Linked DNA regions of Homo sapiens. The protein of the gene in region 2 purifies or fractionates together with the protein of the main gene of each other region. This does not show direct contact. Each region holds a gene or a part of one and is shown on either strand. Other genes may lie near its edges.

Region 1 (9,906 bases), on a different chromosome or scaffold from region 2:
GTACTATTAAAGAGTATGCAGTGAGGCAGCTGACAATGAAATTTTTCATAAAAATGTATAAAAAGGCTATGTTAAGTTTGGGTGGAAAAAACAATGCACCACCATATTACTACCAGCAGTCACGATGTCCTGTCTCAGATTTTAGGAGTCACCGATCTGGTTGGGAGAAATGCTGAGGGATGATCAAGCCATCAATAGCGATCTAAGGAGTGCACACAGTTCAGGAAATGGATAAACAGGTGCCCAGGAAGGCAACTTTAATGAAACTGGTTCTAAAACAAAGGATACAAGAGACCTAAATGATCCAAAAAGAGTGATGGCTTCTCATTTTCTGTCCCCTATAGAGAATATAAATATCATTTCTTCTGGAATCCAACACACTGGATTCATTTTCAAGATGTATCACTTTATTTTCCAGCACGTGACAGTCACATGATTTCTGCAGTGAGCCCCAAAGCTTCCACGAGCTTTCCTGGAACCTACGGCCAGAAGAGTCCTGAGATTTCAAATATTAAAGCTTTCTCCACAGCCACAAGTCCCTTTGATGTTTGGGTTATTGAACACAAACTCACTGGATAATTTGTCTTCAACATAGTCCATTTCTGTTCCTAAAAGTGTTAGCTGTGCTTTCTTTTCGATGAATACTCTGACTCCTTGGAGAAAAGAAAACATGTGTCATGGAAAGCCTGCAGCCTTATGGAACTTGCTGATTCAAAGCACAAGTGAACTTGAAATAGTGACTATCAATGAAAGTCAAACAAGAAGCCTTGAACATTTTAAATTATTTCCTTAAGGAATTAAGCATTCAGTTTCCTGTCTGCCCCTTCTTTCCCACACATGAATTTATGTCACAATCACATTAGGGGAGAATTTTATACAAGTAAATTCCATGACAATTTTATGCAAAATTAGAATTTACCTTTCACTATACTTCACTCATTTTTCCAGTTTGCAACATGAAGAAAATGTATATTCTCGATGAGTTTTATGAAATAAAAAAAAATTTATGAAAATTCTGCAATACACTAGATACACGGATTCAAGCTTAAAGATGTACAAAGGACTGTGATACAATGGGGCTATTTTAATAACATCAATCAGTACAACAATAGTCTTTTCTGGTTACAGGACGGAAAACAGGTACTATTCCCTAGTAATTACACAGGTAGAGGTCAGCATCTTTGTAAATACAATCTTTTTTTTTTTGGACAGAGTCTCACTCTGTCACCCCGGCTGGAGTGCAGTGGTATGATCATGGCTCACCACAAGCTCCACCTCCCAGGCTCAAGCGATCCTCCCACAGGATTACAGGCACATACCACCAGGACCAACTAATTTTTTTAGAGTCAGGGTTTCACCACGTGGCCCAAGCTGGTCTTGCATTCCTGGGCTCAAGTGATCCTCCCACCTCGGCCTCCCAAAGTGCTGGGATTACAGGTGTGAGCCACAGTGCCCAGCCAACAAATACAATCAATTTAAGAAAGCTTTCTAGTCTGGGAAACAGGGCAAAACCCTGGCTCCACTAAAAATACAAAAATTAGCCGGGCACAGTGGTGGGCACCTGTAGTCCCAGCTACTCGGGAGGCTGAGGTGGGAGGACTGCTTGAGCCCGGGAGACAGAGGCTACAGTGAACCATGATTGTGCCACTGCACTCCAGCCTGGGTAAGAGAGCAAGACTCTGTCTCAACAAACAAACAAAACAACGAAACAACAAAAAAACTTTCTTCCTTACAAGAAATTGAGCCATTAGCTAAATATAAACAATATATAATTAAGTCACCTCTTCTTTAAGATGAAAATCTTAAGGTTTATAATGTGTTATAATTTTTAAAATAATACATTTTTAAAAGGTCTTTATTGATAGTTATAACTTTAGTTTAATAAGAAAGCACACTTAGGAATCTAGGCCTCATTCTCCCATGTAGGTAAGAACTGCAAGCTAAGTGCATACTTCCAATGACAAGATAAATTATTTATTTTAGATAGGTTTTAACAGATTATAGGGTGGAAGAAGGGGGCAGCAGCAAATATAATTAATTTTAATTATAAATTAAATTATAATAAATAGCTTTGAATAAAAATTGGAAATACAGGATTCCTCAAAAACATGAGTTGATAATACAGCTCCACTAAAAATACAAAAATGAACCAGGCATGGTGGTGGGCGCCTATAATCCCAGCTACTTGGGAGGCTGAGGTGGGAGGATCGCTTGAACCAGGGAGGTGGAGGTTGCAGCAAGCCGAGATCACACCACTGCACTCCAGCCTGGGTGAGAGAGCGAGACCATCTCAAATTAAAAAAAAAAAAAAAAAAAGGATTATAATGGAGCTGAAAATTCCCATTGCCTAGCAATGCTGTAGCCACCATAATATCACAAGACAACCCATTACTCAGGTGTTTGTGGTGATGCTGGTGTAAACAAACCTATACTGCCAGTCATATAAAAGTCTAAGCATGTTCAATTATGTACACTACATAATACTTGATAATGATAATAAATGGTTATGTTACTGCTTTATGTATTTACTATACTTTTTATTGTTTAAAATTTTAGAGTGTACTTCTACTTATAAAAAAAAAAGTTAACCGTGAAACAGCCTGAGGCAGGTTCTTCAGGAGGTATCCAGAAGAAGGCATCATTATCACAGAAGATGACAACTCCATGAGTGTTACTGCCCCTGACGGCCTTCCAATGGGATGAGGGGAGGTGGTGGAAGACAGGGATATTGATGAACCTGACCCTGTGGAGGCCTAAGTTAATACGTGTGTTTTTGTCTTAGTTTTTAATTAAAATGTTTATAAAGAAAAAATTAAAAATAGAGAAAAGCTTATAGAATAAGAACGTAAAAAATTTTTGTTATTTGTACAATGTGTTTCAAAGCTAATGTTATCACAAAAGAGTCAAAAAAAAAAAAAAAAACCCCAAAGCTTACAAAGTAAAAAAGTTTCAGTAAACTAAGGTTAATTTATTATTGAAGACTAAGTGTACAAGGTTTATAAGGTCTATAGTACTACGGAGGAACGTCCTAGGCTTTCACATTCACTTATCACTCCCTACTCACTCACTGACTCACGCGGACAACTTCCAGTCCTGCAAGTTCCATGCATGGTAACTGCCACAAACAGGTGTACCATGTTTTATTTTCTTCTTCTTCTTCCTTTTTTTTTCTTTTTTTTAAGAGATGGAGGTCTCGCTATGTTGCCCAGGCTTAAGGGCAGTGGCTATTCACAGGTAAGAACACAGTGCACTATGATGTCTTTTTTTCTTTTTTGAGACAGAGTCTCACTTTTTCACCCAGGTTGGAGTGCAATGGCATGGTCTCGGCTCACTGCAACCTCCGCCTCCTGGGGTTCAAGCGATTCTCCTGCCTCAGCCTCCCAGTAGCTGGGACTACAGGCGTGTGCCACCACACCCAGTTAATTTTTTGTATTTTTAGTAGAGATGGGGTTTCACCATGTTGGCCAGGCTGGTCGTGAACTCCTGACCTCATGATCCACCCACCTCGGCCTCCCAAAGTGCTGGGATTACACAGGTGAGCCACCACGCCTGGCCAGTGCACTACATTCTTGAACTCCTACACTCAAGGAATCCTCCTGCCTCAGTCTCCTGAGTAGCTGGGACAACAGGCTTGTGTTAACACACCCGACCACATTTGATCTTTTACAAAATTTTCTTAAGCTGATAAGCAACTTCAGCAAAGTCTCAGGATACAAAATCAATGCACAAAAATCACAAGCATTCTTATACACCAATAACAGACAAACAGAGAGTCAAATCATGAGTGAACTCCCATTCACAATTGCTTCAAAGAGAATAAAATACTTAGGAATCCAACTTAAAAAGGACGTGAAGGACCTCTTCAAGGAGAACTACAAACCACTGCTCAATGAAATAAAAAAGGATACAAACAAATGGAAGAACATTCCATGCTCATGGGTAGGAAGAATCAATATCGTGAAAATGGCCATACTGCCCAAGGTAATTTATAGATTCAATGCCATCCCCATCAAGCTACCAATGACTTTCTTCACAGAATTGGAAAAAACTACTTTAAAGTTCATATGGAACCAAAAAAAAAACCCGCATCGCCAAGTCAATCCTAAGCCAAAAGAACAAAGCTGGAGGCATCACGCTACTTGACTTCAAACTATACTACAAGGCTACAGTAACCAAAACAGCATGGTACTGGTACCAAAACAGAGATATAGATCAATGGAACAGAACAGAGCCCTCAGAAATAACGCCGCATATCTACAACTATCTGATCTTTGACAAACCTGACAAAAACAAGCAATGGGGAAAGGATTCTCTATTTAATAAATGGTGCTGGGAAAACTGGCTAGCCATATGCAGAAAGCTGAAAGTGGATCCCTTCCTTACACCTTATACCAAAATTAATTCAAGATGGATTAAAGACTTAAACGTTAGACCTAAAACCATAAAAACCCTAGAAGAAAACCTAGGCATTACCATTCAGGACATAGGCATGGGAAAGGACTTCATGTCTAAAACACCAAAAGCAATGGCAACAGAAGCCAAAATTGACAAATGGGATCTAATTAAACTAAAGAGCTTCTGCACAGCAAAAGAAACTACCATCAGAGTGAACAGGCAACCTACAAAATGGGAGAAAATTTTCACAACCTACTCATCTGACAAAGGGCTAATATCCAGAATCTACAATGAACTCAAACAAATTTACAAGAAAAAAACAAACAACCCCATCAAAAAGTGGGCAAAGGACATGAACAGACACTTCTCAAAAGAAGACATTTATGCAGCCAAAAGACACATGAAAAAATGCTCGTCATCACTGGCCATCAGAGAAATGCAAATCAAAACCACAATGAGATACCATCTCACACCAGTTAGAATGGCAATCATTAAAAAGTCAGGAAACAACAGGTGCTGGAGAGGATGTGGAGAAATAGGAACACTTTTACACTGGTGGTGGGACTGTAAACTAGTTCAACCATTGTGGAAGTCAGTGTGGCGATTCCTCAGGGATCTAGAACTAGAAATACCATTTGACCCAGCCATCCCATTACTGGGTATATACCCAAAGGACTACAAATCATGCTGCTATAAAGACACATGCACACGTATGTTTACTGTGGCACTATTCACAATAGCAAAGACTTGGAACCAACCCAAATGTCCAACAGTGATAGACTGGATTAAGAAAATGTGGCACATATACACCATGGAATACTATGCAGCCATAAAAAATGATGAGTTCATGTCCTTTGTAGGGACATGGATGAAATTGGAAATCATCATTCTCAGTAAACTATCGCAAGGACAAAAAACCAAACACCACATGTTCTCACTCATAGATGGGAATTGAACAATGAGAACACATGGACACAGGAAGGGAACATCACACTCTGGGGACTGTTGTGGGGCGGGGGGAGGGGGGAGGGATAGCATTAGGAGATATACCTAATGCTAAATGATGAGTTAATGGGTGCAGCACACCAGCATGGCACATGTATACATATGTAACTAAGCTGCACATTGTGCACATGTACCCTAAAACTTAAAGTATAATAATAATAATAATAATAAAAGAAATTTCACTATACTTTTTCTTTGTTTAGGTACGTTTACACAAATACTTACCATTGTGTCAGAACTGTGCACAGTATTCAGCACAGTCACGTGCAGTACAGGTTTGTAGCCTAGGAGCAACAGGTTATATTATCTAGCTGAGGCATATGGTAGGCTCTACCATCTAGGTTTGTGTAAGTACACCCCAGGATATTTGTCCAATGTCACATTTCTCAGACCGTCTAGGTTTGTCTAAGTACACCCCAGGATATTTGTCTAACGTCACATTTCTCAGAATGTATCTCCAATGTTAAGTGATGTATGACTGTATCTGCATTATACTTACTGCTTGAGCATCCCAAATCCAAAAAGCTCCAATGAGCATTTCCTCTGAGTGTCATGTCAGCACCCACTTTTAAAGTTTTGAATTTGGGAGCATTTCAGATTTCAGATTTTTGGATTGGAATGCTCAACTCGTACTTATTTGACACAGATATAAAACTACTGCTTACACAAAAACTGTTGGTTCACTGTGAGGTTTAAGGCTGGTTCACTTTTTGGACACAACGATGATCTTTCATAGTTAAAACAAGCTTATATAATAATTTATCAATTAGTTACTAAGAGCAGTCTCTGGAAAGAATTTTACTAGGCCACTTATTATGACCTTAAACTATTTAACCCCTCTGTGCCTCAGTTTCTTCATCAGAAAAACAGGGATAATATGGTACCACCCACATTCAGCATTGTGTATAAATCAGTTAATACATGAAATTCCATCAAACAACACCTACACACACAGTGAGCATTATTTACATAATTCCTGCTACTATCCTTATTTTTTACTTTGTGCTGTGCAAGGCTAATAATTTTAGGCAAAACAATGTGCCCAAAAAATGTTTGTTAAAAACTCACCATCTTGAATAACTTCTTCATCAGAATCTCCTTTTGTCTTTGTATATTCTAGAGTATAAGAAAGGCCATTACAGCCCCTGGTTCGGACACCAACTTTTACACCTACCTGAAAAAGAAGTGAAAATATAAACTTGGTTTTAAAGTAGTACAGATTAAACAATTATACTAATAAAGTGACAGTAGCCTCCTCGTACCAAAATGGACTTTCTCTTATTTTTTGTAGGACAGGGTCTCACTATGTAGCCCAGACTGGTCTCAAACTCGTGGACTCAAATAACGCTTCCACCTCGGCCTCTCAAAGCATTGGGATTACAAGGCAGGAGCCACCCCGTCCAGCCTGGGACTTTATTTAAAATGTCTTTGCTCTACCTTGTTCTGTGAGATATCCTCTGAATGTTTCCTTATGGTTAGGATTCACCAGGGTTCATAGTCCACCATCTGGCAATCCTACCTCTACATGGGATCTGAATTATAGTGCAGACTTGTGTACAGTCTCAAATACCAGAAAGCAAAAGACTGCAGTCAATACAGACAAAAGAAGTTTAAAAAAGTGACCAAACAGCACTTTAAAAGTATCAATGTTTACATTAATGCAATTTTCAAACAGTATCTACCTAAGTTCTCTGTCTTAGAGCTGAGCTGATTTTTCATTTAAATACAGTCATCCCTTAGTATGCATGGGAAATTGGTTCCAGGACTAACTGAGTATACAAAAATCTGCAGATACTCAAGTCCCTTATGCAAATGGCACTGCATTTGTATATAACCTATATACATCTTCCCCTGTACTTTAAATAACTTCTGGAGGACTTGAATACCTGTAACAATGTAATGCTACATAAACAGTTGTTATACTGTATTGTTTAGAGAATGAAAGTCTGTACATGTTTAATACAGATGCAACCTTCTATTTTTTTCCCAAATATTTCTGACCTATGGTTGATTGAATCCACGTATGCGGAACCCACAGATACGGAGAGGTGACTGTATACAGCAAAAGTATCATAAGTACTATTTCACCAGCAGTTCCTGATTCTACAAAGCCGAATTCTTGTTTCATTAGGCCAATTTGTAGTCTACTCATCGGTCTATCCAAATTGAATCAGAACACTGATATCCTTTGAAATTTAATAATTTTAAAAGGTAGGTTTGAGAACTTCCATTACATTGTAATGTAGTAGGTTAACAACAGAAACCAGAAATCACCCCACCGTCTAATTATTAAATATTGCAATCCATTACTTGAAATGATTTACAGCATTCCATCGGCAACTAACAATGTACAATTAAGATGATACACACATCCCTAACTCAACAATTCTGTATCTAGGAATGGATCCTATGTAGGTGGACTAAGCCATGCTTACAGTTCTAGAACAATGAGCCTGGCACACTGCAGACACTAAATAGTTGCTGAATGGTGTTTGCGGCAGCACTGAATGAAAACGACCCTTTAATATGGGGACTGGTTAAAGAACTCAAACTTGTTCAATGGAATATACTCTACATGCAGCCAAGAAAGGGAGGCAGATCATTACATAATGACATGGAAAGATCTTCAAGCCATTATTAAGGGTAAAAAGCAAAGTGTAACAAAAAAATTTATGGTAGGAAGAGATATACACAGGAATAACAAGCCCAGTCTAGGCCAGTGGTTGCCCTCAGGGAGACATTTTTGGTTGTGACAACCAAAGCTTTGTGGAATCAGGAACTGCTGGTGAAATAGTACTCACCATACTTTTACTCTATACAGTCACCTCTCCGTATCGGTGGGTTCCACATATGTGGATTCTTTGGTTGAGGCAAAGAGGGGGTACTACTGGTATCTAATGGACAGAGGCCACAGATGCTGTCAAACATTCTACAATCTGCCCTAAAGTGTCAACTGTGAGGAGGCTGAGAAAATCAGGTCTAGCCGCTTCAAATGTATACATTATCCCTGGAAGGATACCAAAGAGATTGCTTCTTGGAAGGAAGAATGACGACGAAGAGTCAGGTTGAAAGAATGACTTCCTTTTAGTTAAATACCCTTTTGTATTATTTGAATTTTTTAAAAATCCTGAGTATATTTTACATTTTAAATAAAAACCCCTAAATGAAATAATACTGTATATCATGGGATAAATTCATTCTGAAAATGCAGCTTCAGTTTTTTACTGAATAATTAACTGGTTTTACTTACATGCTCAGGCTTATCTTTAAGAAGTTGTTTTATCTTGTTTACTGCTGAAGGTGTCTGAAAAAAGAAAATGATGTTTTTAGCTACAAAACTTGTTATTCAAAGCCTCATATTTATCAGTCTTCGTAAGTCTGTCTTTAGCAAATTCATGTGACAAATTTATGTTCCATTCTTGCCAGGGTACCTTATGGACTTTATATAGAAACACATAAACTATACCTAATTCAAAATATCCTCTTTATTTAAAAAAAAAATCTGCTAGCAACATCCTTTTAATCTTGCTCCTCAGTCCAGGTTGGTTCCCTGTCCTTCTCTCTATGGTGCTATTCACTCACATTACAAATGCTATTTTTCTGGGCAGCATCTATTTTGTGCACCAACTCTATGCCCAGGAACCAGCATGTTGCCTACGACAAAGAGCCAATGAAGGAATCAAGTATCTCACTGGGAAGGCCAACCTTCAGGTGTTTTTCCTGTTGATTATTAATCCTACTGCTTTTTTTTTTCTTACTCACAATCCATTTCTAATCCATCAAAATGCATAGCTTGAGGAAACAGTGTTACCAGCATAAAATAACCCAGGGTGTGCTTCTTGCACCAGTCCCACCAAATGCTCACATAGATTTTTTTCAACGTGGATTAAACCAACATCTCAGGAGATCTAGATGAACAAAACTAAGCTAGTCAATGACAGAAATAAGAACAAGGAGGAGCTGTTTCCCAGAGAAATGCTGTTTTAACATAGCTCAGCGGGCCTCAAAATGAGAAAAACATCACAGTTTGTGTGAAATAGGTCGGTGTTGCCAACCCCACTTCTTTGGGAAGGAGACTGTTCCCCGACATTCCTGGCCCACTTCCTAGCTGTGCCTCCAGGGCAGTCACCCTAAGTGGCTTCTCTGACTTCTATTCCCTTACTGGTGAAACAGGGATAACAGTTCCTCCTCCTCCTGATTCTTGTGAGGATTAAATATTTAAACTCATGGAAAGCATTCAGGACAGTGCCAGGCACAAAAATACCAAGTATTATTATGATTATGAGAGTACATCATAATGAAGACATTATGTGCGTCCTTCCTACTTTATCAGCTCCTCTAGCTGGCAGTGCTCTGCAGGCCCTCCAGTCCCTTGTACTGACATTTTACTGTACAGTAAAGTCTTTGAGACTGCTTGTGAAGTCTCAAAGTCTGGATATTACGACCTAAGACTTGGTAGTAAACTGAGGCCAGGACTGACACCTGGAAGAGCCAGCCCAATGGATG
Region 2 (6,766 bases):
TCCCAGGAATGTTGTGGGAAATTCATGAGATAGAAAAGTACCAGCGTTCAGGAAGGGTGAGTCCCCACAGCTCCGTGAGGCCAGAGATACTGCCCTTCTGCGGGACTTTGTTACAATCACCCTATGACAATGCACAAATAAATGGTCATTCAATTACAAAAGAGTACAAGGACTTATATTTACTCAGTTCATCCAATATCAATTATTATAATAATCAACAGTGTAAATTGGAAAGTAACTACGTGGAAACCACTTCTCCTTCTTTCCCATCTAAGGTCTCAGAAGTGCTTTCCCAGATGTGATCTCATTAACCTCTATATTGATCTGAGAGGTGTTAACCAAAACTGGCCAGCACAGGGGAAATGACTCACCTAAGGCCTTATAATGGGCCTGCCCCGCCATGTTCTATTGCATTGTTTTTCTGCAAAGCCTCATCTTGCGGGGTTACACTATACATATTTTTCCTCTCTTTTCGTTTTACCAAAGAGAAAAATATATACTTTTTTACTGTTAAGAAACATTTTCTCAAATAAGTACGTATTTCATTCCTTACTGAAATGGTTTTTTCTTATTGATCCATTGAAACCATATTGGCTATGTTCAACATAACTAGAGATATCTTTGGTGTTTTCCTCCCTTAGCTTCATATCTTGTAGAACATCTCGTACAAAAAAAGTAGATTTACAGAAAAACATACATATAAATCACGTATTAATCCCCAAATGTAGTAAATAACATAGCAAAAACTTTATCAAATCCATTTCATGCACAAGCTGGACAGATCTGTTATATACAATCTCTATATGCATCTGCAGTGTTTTATAAATTGGTGCTTTGACATTAAAAAGGAGGTTTACAAAAAGGCCCCTCTTGTACTATCGATGACTGAATTATCTCACTATCATTGCTTCTCAAATTTCCTTGAATTTATACTCATCATTGCCATATCACCATTCTAACAAAGGCGGTTATTTTAAGGAAAAAGTTGCAGCGTGATTATGATATAAGTAACATTCAAAATTTCACGTTATCAAGAGTTGAGCAAAGTACTAATTTCCCCTTTATAAACACACGTTTAAAACAAGAGCTTCATGCACATCCAAATAGAAATTCAAAGTCAAACTGTGTAATGTGTTTTTATTGACAGAAGGCATCACACACATTCCCAAGCAGCATGGTTCCCGTGAGAAACTGAAAACTAATTTCTTGAATCTACAATGCGACTTCCATCTTCCAGGTGTAACCAGAGTTTTTCCTGGAGCGATTCCAGCTTGTTTCCTTTTGGTGCCTTCCTTAAGAAATTTTGCAGCTGTTTCTGGTGCAGTTTTTGGGTGGGCTCTGGGGTGGGCAGACGATCTCCACTTTGCAGAGGCTGCTCTTGTGAGTGGAGCTGGTGGTGAGGGAGTAGGAGAGGCCTCGCATCATCCTGGCATTCAGGCCCTTAGCCATGGAGAAGGACTTGAGGTGGCTTCTTAAGGTACTGGGGAGCGGGAGCTTGTCCACCAGATGCACAGGTGTGCAGGACACGATGGTGCGGCAGCAGAGGTCTTGCAAGCTCAGTACCTTGCTCGGCCTCCCGAGCCAATTCATCCTGTGCCGCAGCAGCACTATCCTGGCCAGCTCCGTGAAAGACTCTATGATGTTGAAATTGCACAGAGGGCTGACCTCAAAGAAGGTCACACCCAGGCGCTCGGCGTAGGCCTGGGCCTGCTCCCTGGGCACCTGCCTCTTGAATGCCAGATGTAGGCGATTCCCCACCAGGATTTTAGGGACACCAGGGGCATGTTCCTCAATCTTCTTAATCCATCGATCCATACCCTCGAAAGACCAGCGGTTTGCAATGTCGTAGACCAGGATCACTCCTTGTGCACCACGAGAGTAGGAGCGGAATATGGTACAAAATCTTCCCTGCCCCGACGTATCCCAGAGCTTCAGCTTCACCCGCTGGCCGTCCAGCAGGATGGTGGTCGTCTTGTAGTCGATCCCCCCGAGATGGCTGTACGGGGACTCAGCTGCACCATCCTGCAGGCTCTCCAGGATCTCACTCTTGCCTACGTCCCTGTCGCCCACCAGCAGGAACTTGAGCAGGAAGTCATAGGCCTGGTCGGGGCTGCCCGGGGCGCTCATGGTGCTGGCCCCGCACTCCCGCCTGAGCCAGGCCCGCGGGGTTGTGCGCAGAGGTGGTGCCGGGCCTGTTCTTCTTGAGAAATTAGCATAGAACATAAAAAATGAGATGGGGAAGTCTGTGAAATAAAGCGAAATGAGGTGGTGGCTTTGATGGATTTCTTTTACAAACCCTAGGAAACTGATTCAGCGATTGTTTTCCTTTTTCTTACCCAGCACAGAGTAGTGACACAGCAGTTAATTCATCATGGAAACCTATACATTTCCCTTAAAACTTTCATGTGATCGTTATGGAACCATGCCTTTTGGATTATGTCAAAGGAATCTCCTTTAAAGGAAGGACGGGTATGGGATAGGAAAGGGACTAAGATGTGTTGAGTACTGTACGTACCCTATGCTGTGTATGACGCTTAAAATATTTTGTTCTTTTGCTTTCAGAACAGTTGTCTTTGGTAGCTATAATTGTTTCCATTTTACAAATGAGAAAAGGCAAACTCAGAAATGTTATGTAATTTTTTAAAACATTGCCATTAATATAGAGATCACAGAAATCACAATCCTGAGCCAGTGCTCTCCTCATATAACGCACTACACACCCTTTCTACTCTGTGGCCATGCCGGGTTTAGGAGTAAGTGTGAACTGTCTGTGCATGTGATCCTTGACAAGCCACGCATGTTTACATGGGCACTAATACTTTTCTTGCTGCAGGGGGACATCTCCCATAAATATAAGAGCCAAGATCTCAGAAGAGATATCTAGGACATGGATTTTGCTAGAGTGTCTCATAAATAATATTCACCCAACAAAGATGTGTTGAAATAATGCATGCATCCATCAGTGAAGGGTTTTAGGTTTAACACATGTACAGCTCCTATAACAAAATAACAAAACTGAAAAAATATGTATATGGTTCACAGGTGAAGAAACGCAAATGGCCAGTAATCACAAGAAAATGCATTCTAGCTCACTAATACATTAAAGAATGCTAATGAAACCATCTAAATATCCTTTTATCACCTATCATCTGACAAAATTTAAATGTAGAAAAAAACCGAAAAAGAATTTTTTTTTAATTTGCAAAAGAAAAAGATGCAAAAGAAAAAGGCTCTGTGTGTGTCTGTGTATGGGGGCAGGATGAGGGACCAAATACATCAAGGAAATGGAAACACACTTATCAGTTATAAATACACTTAAATATTGTAACTACAACAGGTACAAAGATGGTTAAAGAAATGAGAATGCTCATACACATATAAGGGAGTTTAAATTATTGAAATCAAGCCCCAAGGGATAGATGTTTACAAATGTAATGGAGGAAAAAATTTTCACATGTCCAAAATAGCCAGGTAAGTGGTTATTTGAAATAGCATTGCTGAAATCTTTTTAAAAAGGAAAAAATGAGAAACATTCTAAATACTCATCAATACAGAACAAACGTGAATAAAGGATAAGAAAAACATTTCTATTTCTCTGTGGGCTTCAGGGCAAATAGAGAAAAAAAAAACCTTTAGATTAATTCCAGATTTAGCTGACAATAAGGAGATAATAAAGTTCTCTCCCTGATTTACACAAACTCCCTTAAAGACAGCACCCTGATTGGAATAATGATCATAATCATCGGTACCTTGAACAGCCGTTAGGATAAAGGAGATGAAATATAGAGTGCATTTGCCTAAAGTAGTTCAGTGCAGGTTACTTTCCTTCTCTTCAGCTCACCTGTCCCAAGGCCAACACCTAAGCTTCTGCCTGAGCCCACTCACCACTTAAGGGATCAGCCAACTCATACGGTCCCACACCCAGTCTCTTGGCATAAAGTGCAGGATTTCACTTCTGTCTTCCTCATCACCCAGAGGGGTTGTGGAGTGGGGGACCCATGGGGCCACAATAGCAGGGGAGTGGAATCTGACATTTCTCAAGCCCTGGAAGCCCATCTTCTAAAAGGGGGTGCTCAGGGTCCTTTAGGGAGGGTGAGGGATGAAACCTCATTCCAATCCTGCCACTTACCTGGGAAGGTGACTTAGGCTCTGAAAGCCTGAGCTTGATTATCTGTGAGATAGAACTGACTGTATCATCCTTACCGAGCTGTCCCAAGGAGCAAATGAGAAAACCTGTTGAGAGTATACGGCATGAAGTGGGACTTCAATGGCCCTTTAAATGCTGAGACACAGAAGTGGGGGCTGGCTGAGCCTCTGGGCTAAGAAGGCATTGTGAAAAGTCATTTTTCATTGTTTCTACTAATGAGAACACAGACATCCATATAAAGAAAGCAAATCTCTCTCTGATATGCCTTGAGTTCAAAGTTTTAGAGACAGAATGTTCTCTACATTCTTGGATGTCTCATAATCTAATAAAAGCTGTTGAACATCATGCCTCTGAGCAGACCCAAATTCACTTCCCAAGCTAGAAAGAAAAAAATTGATTGATAGATGTAAAACAAGACTGTAAAAACATATGCGCCAGGGCATGAAACACCAGGTAGCACTGACAGGGCTGTAGAAAGGTGACAGAGAGGATAGAGGTCACAGGAGCAGGGTCTGGGCAACTGTGTCCATAGGATCCTAGAGAAGGGAGGACTGAAAGGGAATGGGAGGAGGTCTGGGAAGCTTATGCACGGGCAATGGAGGCTAAATGCCCTGCTGTCTGTGAGGGACCTCTCCACAGCATGCACGGGACAACGTATACTGAGGAGGGAAGAGATAAATCAGTGAATGCCATGTAGATTTGGAGTCCACAGCCAATGGACCAGCTTTAATATACGTATATTTTTCAAACAGAACTGGCATCGTAGTTTGTCACTCTTTGCAAAATGTCCTCCTTTAAAAAAAAAAAAAATGGAGATAGCTGTGATGCCTCCTGATGGCCAGAACCCGGATCACAGCTTTGAGAGTCTCAGACAAGGGGCTCAGGGAAAGGGAGAGGGATGTTGGAGGTGAACTACAAAGATATTAGCCAGAGTTTTCTGGAATTATTCACCTAACGATAGCAATCTCTGTGTATTAGTCATGTTCTGGTATATGTGAAACTGAGATTGGCTCCAGCCCCTGTCTGCATTAAAGGTAAAGCTGCATCTGTGAGTGTGTATTTGGAGTGATACAGCTAGACCTAGACACACACACACATGCAAATACCCTGTCAAATTATTTCCTGTTTTCACCATAAAATAGAATATAATGAATGCTTTCTCAAATTAATAAACATGTGCACAGTACTTTTGACAATCTGTTCAAAAGTATTTTGTCACAGCCATAAAAAAGAACAATATAATGTCCCTTGCAGCAACATAGATGCATCTGGAGGCTATTATCCTAAGTAAATTAACACAGGAACAAAAAACCAAATACCACATGTTTTCACTTATAAGTGGAAACTAAACATTGGGGACTCATGGACGTAAAGATAGCAACAACAAACCCTGGGGCCTACTGGAGGAGTGGGGAGAGGTGGGGCAAGGGTTGAAAAACTATTGGGTACTATGCTCACTACCTGGGTGATGGGATCATTCATATCCCAAACCTTAGCATCACACAATATACCCATGTAACAAACCTGCACATGTACCCCCTGGATCTAAAATAAAAGCTGAAACTTAAAAGAGAAGAACATTCTGCCTCCTATAATGAAGAAACATCTCAGCTAACTTATTTTTTGGAAGACAGCAACATTTTTTCAAAGTTTGGGTACATCATTTTTTAAAATTCACTATGCCTCTTTCTTTCAGGTCCATTTCATTGACTACAGAAAGGCATCAGAATATATATATATTTTTATTTTATTTTATTTTATTTTTTGGACAGTCTTGCTCTGACGCCCAGGCTGGAGTGCAGTGGTACAATCTCAGCTCACTGCAACCTCCGCCTCCCAGGTTCAAGCGATTCTCGTGCCTCAGCGTACTGAGTACCTGGGATTATAGGCATGCGCCACCACACCCGACTAATTATTATATTTTTAGTAGAGATGGGGTTTCACCATGTTGGCCAGGCTGGTCTTGAACTCCTGGCCTCATGAGATCCACCCGCCTCAGCCTCCCAAAGTGCTGGGATTCCAGGCGTGAGCCACCACACCCAGCTAGGCATTAGAATTTAACTTCATTGCCTTGAATATTTTAATTAATGTTTTATATTTAATCTTAAAGAAGGGGAAATTTTTATATCATTGAAGAGACACTTATGTTTACAAGAACTTTTAATAATAAAAGCAGAATTTACTAGTAAAAAAGGGAAAGAAATAGAACATTATCTTCACTTCAGGAGCTTCCTTTATGCCCTTACAAGTCATTATACCTCCAAAAGTAAACTACATTAACTTCTAACACTAGAGATTTGCCTGTTTACGAACTTTTCATATTTTATTTACCTGAAATTATACTTTTTTGTTTCTGCTTTGTTTTGCTTAATATTATCCTTGTGAGATATATCCATGATTTTGCATATGGCAACATTAAAATGAGCATTCTAATTGTGGTAGAGTATTTCATTTTATGAATACTACAAGTTATCTGTTGGATGATATTTGGGTTATGCCCACAGTTTGACTAATGTTATAGTACTACTACATACAGTTTTGTGCCTGTCTTTAGTGGGTATATGTACACGATTCTGTTGAGTATATCAAAGATTGGAATTGCTGGCTCATAGGTATGCA
Region 3 (7,215 bases), on a different chromosome or scaffold from region 2:
AAAGTTAAATGTTGGGTTTTGTCTATGTCGTGGTATAAATAATGTATAAATATATACATGCTTTTGTTGTGTTTTTTTTCCATTTTTGTTTTTTTTTAATATTTAATATTGAGAGTTTTGAGAACTTCTGTCTCCTAATGATGGAGTTGCAGATAAAAAATCACAACATGCTAATTTTTTTTTGGCATTCTCTCCTAGAAAGATGAAATCTTTTTTTTTTTTTTTTTTTTTTTTTTGAGACAGAGTTTCGCTCTTGTTACCCAGGCTGGAGTGCGGTGGCACGATCTCAGCTCACCACAATCTCTGCCTCCCGGGTTCAAGCGATTCTCCTGGCTCAGCCTCCCGACTAGCTGGGATTACAGGAATGTGCCACCACACCCAGCTAATTTTTTGTCTTTTTAGTAGAGACAGGGTTTCTCCATGCTGGTCAGGCTGGTCTTGAACTCCCGACCTCAGTTGATCTGCCCACCTCGGCCTCCCAAAGTGCTAGGATTACAGGCATGAGCCACTGTGCCTGGCCAATCTATTTTTTTTTAAATAAAAATGAGTATTAACATTATCTATTTCCATGATGACCCTAAAAACATTAAATTCATTAAACTCATAATAGTACTAAGCATTATATCTAATTTCCATTGCATACTGCAAATATTTAAGGTAACTTGTGCCCATAAGAACAGAGTTAGTTGCCTGGAGAGTGATTAGAATTAGAATCTTAGGATTTCTGGAAAATCTTAGGATTTTCTCCATTGTTCAAAGACACGTAGATAAATAACCTTAACCATACATCCTCTACTTCCACCCACCTTTTTGGGCTGATAATTCATGCTTCTTAGATTTCCTGGGCACTAGATGTCACTATTGTTCCAGGCACTAGTGCATCTTAAATAAGGACTTGCACTGTGTCAGAATACTTATCTGTTGTCTAAGACGTTTCAAGAGAGAGCATAAAACGGAGGGAGAAGTGGAGGGAGAGGAGGGAGGGCTGGTGGAGGGAACAAGTGAAAGTGACCTCCCCGACAAAAATATGGGGCCTTTCTTCACTTCAAAAGAGTAAAAAGTTGAGAGCCAGAGATTGGCATCAAGAACGAAAAACTGATGTTACAAGCGAACTGGTCATGCTTTTAAAAATAGCTTTTCAGTTCTTGTATATATGCACAGGATTTCTCATTAAAATCACCTTTGATTGTTTCTTGGCCTTTTGGCTAAGATCAAGTGTAAAATCACCTTCAGAGAGTGTTTAAAACAAACTCCCGGGCCTCTAGAGGTCTCATTCAGTAGGTTTGGGGCAGGGAGGGACTTGACATGTTTAATGAGCCTTGGGGTGATTCTGATGTTTCCTTGCACCAGTGGAGCAGGAGTTAGTCTTCGTGATGTCTAAGATTAATTGCCACTGATAGTCAGAACAACATTCTGCAAAATTTGATTTAACCCTTGAAGGGGGAAGCATGTTTTCAGGGAAGCCACATTTTTTTTTCTGTTTTCTTTATATTCCTTAAGATCTGTTTTCCTCATCAAGCATGATATTGGCCATGTCCTTGGTAATAGTGGGTTTTGTGGCTATGCTCAGATTTTCATTGAGAATCAGAGGAAAAGGTTGCTTATCTGTATTATTTTGGGCTTTATATGCTGTCTTCCTCCATGGTCTCTTTCATTTATCTTTGAATTGGCTGGATTTGACTGGCAGAATAAAGAAGGGTGGGGCATTTATTTAAATAAGTAGGCCAGACATTACATCGCACAGCCGAAGGGCTAGTGGGTTATATTTGTTGTCTTCCCTTTTGCTTAGTTTGACCCTTAACTGGTAACTCACAATAACCTCAAGAAGGTTGGAATTTCTCAAGAGAACAAGAAGGAAGTGGAAAAGAAACTGACTGTGAAGCCTATAGAAACCAAGAACAAGTTCTCCCAGGCGAAGCTGTTGGCAGGAGCTGTGAAGCATAAGAGGTTAGTCAGCACTCACACAACTCAGATTTCTCTCTGACCGTGTACTCTGAAACACCACTTGTAATGGAAGCCAGAGCCAACGCTTGCCTCGCGTGAGTCCTGGTGAAGTTCCCTTGGTGTGCTCACCTATCTCTCCCTTTCCAGATTTGAGGCCTTCTATAGGCTTTGACCCTCGTCTCTCTGATCACTTATTCAACAAATATAAATAATAGCTACTCTTCAGTGGGGATCTGCCACACCAGGCATTGTGTTAAGTGCTTCCTGTGCATAATCCCATGTATTCTTCAACAACCCTATGAAGTACAATTATAATCCCTGTTTTGTAGATGAGAAGACCAAGAGTTTGAGAGGTTGAGACCCTTCTTTGTGCAAGATCATAGAGAAACAGAGAGCTAGAGTTCATTATTTGGGCTTCTGTCTAGAAAAATGAGGTAGTGAGTCTTGTGAAAGGATCTGTGTAGGGTGTACTGAGAGCAAGGAGGAGGAGCATACAATGCTGCTGGGAGGGTGTTGTGTGCATCTTCATGTTGGGGAGGTTGGGGGAAACCATTGGAAAGATGCTGATTAGGTAGGACAACTAGGGCTTTGACAAGCAACAAGGGAGAGAACAGTCTAAGCAGAGGGAATAGCTGCTGCAAAGGCATCCTGTCCTGAAAGAACATGGCAGCCCTGGCAGGGTTACAGACCTGGCTGTGGCTAGGTTTGGATTGATGTGGAAGTGATAGCACTGTCTCAAGGCTATGATAAGTTCTTTGCTATGTTTGCTCCTCCCTTTCCAAATCCTGAAATGTCATCAGAGTGATTGAATCTGGTCATTTAGATTTGACCCAACAGACTGTGGGCGAAATGATAAGTTTAAGTGCAGTCTATTAGGAAAATCAATATGATATATTGGCAACCAGCCATATGTTTTGAAGGGAGTGTATTGATGCAGTCTTGTGGTTTGGCACACCACCCATCTGCTGCAGATGTTCTTAGGAACACTGCCTACATGTAAAAATGTCATGCTGGTATAGCAACAGAGGGGAGGAGTTATCCTGAGAAGGGCTCGCTACCCAAACCATGAATTATTCCTTTCAAGTTCTCACATAAGCTTTCCTGCAAGACTAGGGACTCGCAGGATTTGGACCTGGGTCAGTTTTACTGGAATATGCCAAGGGAGGGCTCTCCAGGTGATCAATTTGTTATCCCTTGAGACTGCTCTTGGTGGTCGCAGAATGGGTGTTGTAACTGTTTCCCTTAGTTCTTAGATCACCTTTAGAAAAGGCTCTGTAGTAGCGTATTTGGTGACCTGCATATAACCCCTTTTGGGTTTTGAAACAACATCATTTAATGTTTCTTTGTGTAGTAAGGTAGTCTCCTGGGGCAGGAGTTCCTAATCTGTCCGACCCTGAGTTTATTGGAATCACCTGGGAGTTTGTTAATAATTTATATTCGCAGGCCTTGCACTAATTCTGGTTCAGTAAGTTTGAAGTGAAGTCTGGGAGTCGTAGTTTTCAAAGTTCCATGAGTGATTCTGCTGCCTGGTGAAGGTCTGGAAGCCATTGGCATGTATATGTCATGAAGCATAAGACCAAAACAAGCAGCAATTTCTTACCTTCTTCAAAGGAATATTCTTTACTCTCTTCTAGTTTATTCTTTTATTTATTGTTAGAAAAAACTGTCAGATACCTAGTTCATGAATGTGCAGTCTTTTTAGTTATGAGCATCTGAAGCTATAAATTTTCCTTAACTTTCATTGTATATGAGTTTTATATTTCCTTCTAAGTATTTTAAAATATCCATTATGATTTCTTCTTTGACTCAGGAATTATTTAGAAATGTATTTTTTAAATCTCCATATTGAGGTAACAACCATATTTCAGTGAGGGGAAAGATAAGCCTTCCCCCTCGCCACACACGTTTTAACACCTTATGATGATATATATATATATATATAACAGTGTCTTAGAGGCTGCAAAATATGTTTCTCTTTTGTCATTGATTTCCAACTTAATTGCATGTGGTTTTGTATACTCTGATTCTCTTTTCTTTTTCTTTTCTTTTTCTTTTTCTTTTTTTTTTTTTGAGCTGGAGTTTCACTCTTGTCGCCCAGGCTGGAGTGCAATGGCGCAATCTTGGCACACCTGTGCCTCCCGGGTTCAAGCGATTCTCATGCCTCAGCCTCCCAAGTAGCTGGGATTACAGGCATGCACCACCTTGCCTGGCTAATTTTGTATTTTTTGTAGAGACAGGGTTTCACCATGTTGGCCAGGCTGGTGTCAAACACCTGACCTCAGGTGATCCGTCCGTCTTGGCCTCCCAACGTGCTGGGATTACAGGCGTCAGCCACCGCACCCGGGCCTCCCACATAAGTCTTAAATGGAACCTGCTGTGTACTCCCTGCAAGAAAATACCAACTAGTACATACACACAGTAATGTCCCCAGTCTTAGAGGTGACTTCAGTATGGTCTGTTGAACACCACAAACTAGACATTATTTTTTGATACAGTATTTGTTTAGATTTATATTTGTATTTGCCAGTTTATTTGTTCACCACCCCTTCCTTCTGGGGTCCCTTCCTTCTGGGATCATTTCTTTCTTCATTGAAATACATTCCTTATACATTGTTTTAGTGAAAATCTTGTGGGTGACTCTCAGAATCTCTAGCATGTCACTAAAGATGTTTTCTTCAATCTGTAATTACTAAATGTTTGTCATTTATGAACATGTCTAAATATTCTTGAAATCCATCTGTGGTTCTAACCAATTTGAGTGATAAAGACGGCCAAGAATCTGAAGTTGAAGTGATGGTTGATACAGTGCTTTATTTCCTGGATTTGTCAGGAGTTTAAATTGTCTTTATGACTGATGATGCAATTGGAAGGAGATTAAGAATCTGAAATGAATACTTTTCATTCATTTTTATCATCCCAGCCTCTTGAGACTGCCTAAGACCCATATAAATAGTTATTGGAGCTCCTGATTCCCTAAGCTTTGATCCACAAGATTGGACATGGCTCAAGTCACCATGTGTTTTGTTACAGCTCAGAGAGTGGCAACAGTGTGAAAAGACTGAAACCGGACCCTGAGCCAGATGACAAGAATCAAGGTGGGTGGCAGCCTTCATTACTTCCTTGTACTCAGAATACACATGAACCACAGTAAAGGGCTGTAATGCATTGCTTCTGCAAATGAATGCATTTCTGTCTTCAAGCAAGCCTACCTATGCTTAATTTACCCAACTTTTTTATGCCAGGCAGGATTTTATTACCAGGCCAGAGTTTATACCAGGCAGGATTTTATACCTGCAAAAGTTATTATATTAGAAACCAGTGAAACTGATCAATGAAAATAGTACTCTCCCAGGAGTGCTTACCAGGCCCTGGTCATACCACCTCTGCTCACAAAAGGTGTTTTTCTGTTTCCCCCAAATGTCAGGTTTCTTGATTTCACCTGGTTTGCTACCAGTGGGAGGTAAATACCTGGCTCCTGCTCATTGTTGTACTGGATTGAGCCTAGAAGCTTAATACAATCTCAAGGAGTATACTTCTTTGGTTTTTACTTTTATGTGATGAAATCTGCCTCTGTATTAAGAGGCAAGAACTTGTAAGTGAAGGTGAATGTTACTGGGGCTGGATTAGGGATGAGAAATTCGAGTGTGTTTTCAGTTTTATTCTAACTCCATGTGGGATTGAGACTCTGAACTAAATTCCATCGATCAACAGGGCTTACATTAATTTCTCTCAAAAAAAGATGATGCTTTTTAATATGCATCTACTAAGCACCAGTGGTGGTGGTCTGTTGCTGTTACCCTTTTGGTCTAGAACCTACTTTTAAAAAGAAGAGTCTGGGGGAAAAAAAAAGGAGCCTGCCTTTTACCCGTATCTCTTCCATCTAGTTCTCCTTAGAGGGAAACAGAATTATACTTTTTTTTTTCTTTTTTTTGAGATGGAGTCTCACTCTGTCACCCAGGCTGGAGTGCAGTGGCTCAATCTCAGCTCACTGCAACCTCCGCCTCCTGGGCTCAAGTAATTCTCCTGCCTCACCCTCCCGAGTATTTGGGATTACAGGCGTGCGCCACCACACCTGGCTAATTTTTGTATTTTTAGTAGAGACAGGATTTCACCATGTTGGCCAGGCTGGTCTTGCACTCCTGACCTCAAGTGATCTGCCTGCCTCGGCCTCCCAAAGTGCTGGGATTACAGGAGTGAGCCACCAAGCCCAGCCACATTTCTTATGTAGCCATCAAGAGCTATTCTATGCATGTGCAAGCAATTGTAAATATGTATCTTTTAAATGCTTTATTATGGATAATTTAAGCAATATTCAGAAGTTGGAATAAGTATAATAAACCCCCATTACCAAGCTTCACTGATTTTTTTTTTTTCTTTGTAAGGTATCTCCTACAGGAAAGACCGTCAACAATTTTTTTTTTTTTTTTTTTTGAGACAGGGTCTTGCTCTATCACCCAAGATAGAGTGTAGTGGGGTTATCTTGGCTCATTGCAGCCTCTGCCTTCCTGGTTTAAGCAATTTTCATGCCTCAACCACCCAGGTAGCTAGGACTACAGGCATGTGCCACCACGCCCAGCTAATTTTTGTATTTTTAGTAGAGACGGGATTTCGCCATGTTGGCCAGGCTGGTCTCGAACTCCTAGCCTCAAGTGATCCACCTGCCTCGGCCTCCCAAAGTGCTGGGATTACAGGTGTGAGCCACCACACCCAGTCAGCAGTTTTTAACACATAGCCAATTTTATTTCATTTATATCTCTCAACTGTAATATTTTGTGACAATTCCAGACATTATATCATTTCATTCATAATTCTTAATATATGTCTCTAGCAAATACAAGTTCTTATTTTGTTTCTTTGTTTTAACAATTACAGTACCATTATATTAATAATCACAGGCCAGGCGCAGTGGCTCATGCCTATAATCCCAACACTTTGGGAGGCTGAGGCAGGCAGATCACCTGAGGTTGGGAGTTTGTGACCAGCCTGACCAACATGGAGAAACCCTGTCTCTACTAAAAATACAAAATTAGTCGGGCTGCTGGCTATGCCTGTAATCCCAGCTCCTCAGGAGGCTGAGGCGGAAGAATCGTTTGAACCTGGGAGGCAGAGGTTGCGGTGAGCCGAGATTGCACCATTGCTCTCCAGCCTGGGCAACAAGAGCGAGACTCTGTCTCAAAAATAATAATAATAATAATCACAGTAATTACCAAATATTATCGAATATTAAGTTAGTATTTTCTCCAATTGTCTCAAAAAAGTTTTTTCTTTTTA

The links.
Region 1: the proteins of RAB40A (region 2) and ISCA1 purify together in Homo sapiens (affinity purification with mass spectrometry; 3 studies listed by BioGRID and IntAct, with this or other methods). This does not show direct contact.
Region 3: the proteins of RAB40A (region 2) and PSME3IP1 purify together in Homo sapiens (affinity purification with mass spectrometry; 3 studies listed by BioGRID and IntAct, with this or other methods). This does not show direct contact.

What each region holds. Positions count from the first base shown.
Region 1 is NC_000009.12:86,265,539-86,275,444, forward strand, and holds part of ISCA1 (iron-sulfur cluster assembly 1 homolog, mitochondrial precursor), read right to left. Parts: intron 8,705-9,906; coding exon 8,651-8,704; intron 6,575-8,650; coding exon 6,469-6,574; intron 654-6,468; coding exon 505-653; 3' UTR 1-504. UniProt on the Homo sapiens protein: Involved in the maturation of mitochondrial 4Fe-4S proteins functioning late in the iron-sulfur cluster assembly pathway. Probably involved in the binding of an intermediate of Fe/S cluster assembly.
Region 2 is NC_000023.11:103,498,630-103,505,395, forward strand, and holds the end of RAB40A (ras-related protein Rab-40A), read right to left. Parts: intron 4,254-6,766; exon of another isoform or gene 4,130-4,253; intron 2,274-4,129; exon of another isoform or gene 2,198-2,273; 5' UTR 2,128-2,197; coding exon 1,294-2,127; 3' UTR 501-1,293; downstream 1-500.
Region 3 is NC_000016.10:57,161,825-57,169,039, reverse strand, and holds part of PSME3IP1 (PSME3-interacting protein), read left to right. Parts: intron 1-1,813; coding exon 1,814-1,947; intron 1,948-4,974; coding exon 4,975-5,039; intron 5,040-7,215. UniProt on the Homo sapiens protein: Promotes the association of the proteasome activator complex subunit PSME3 with the 20S proteasome and regulates its activity.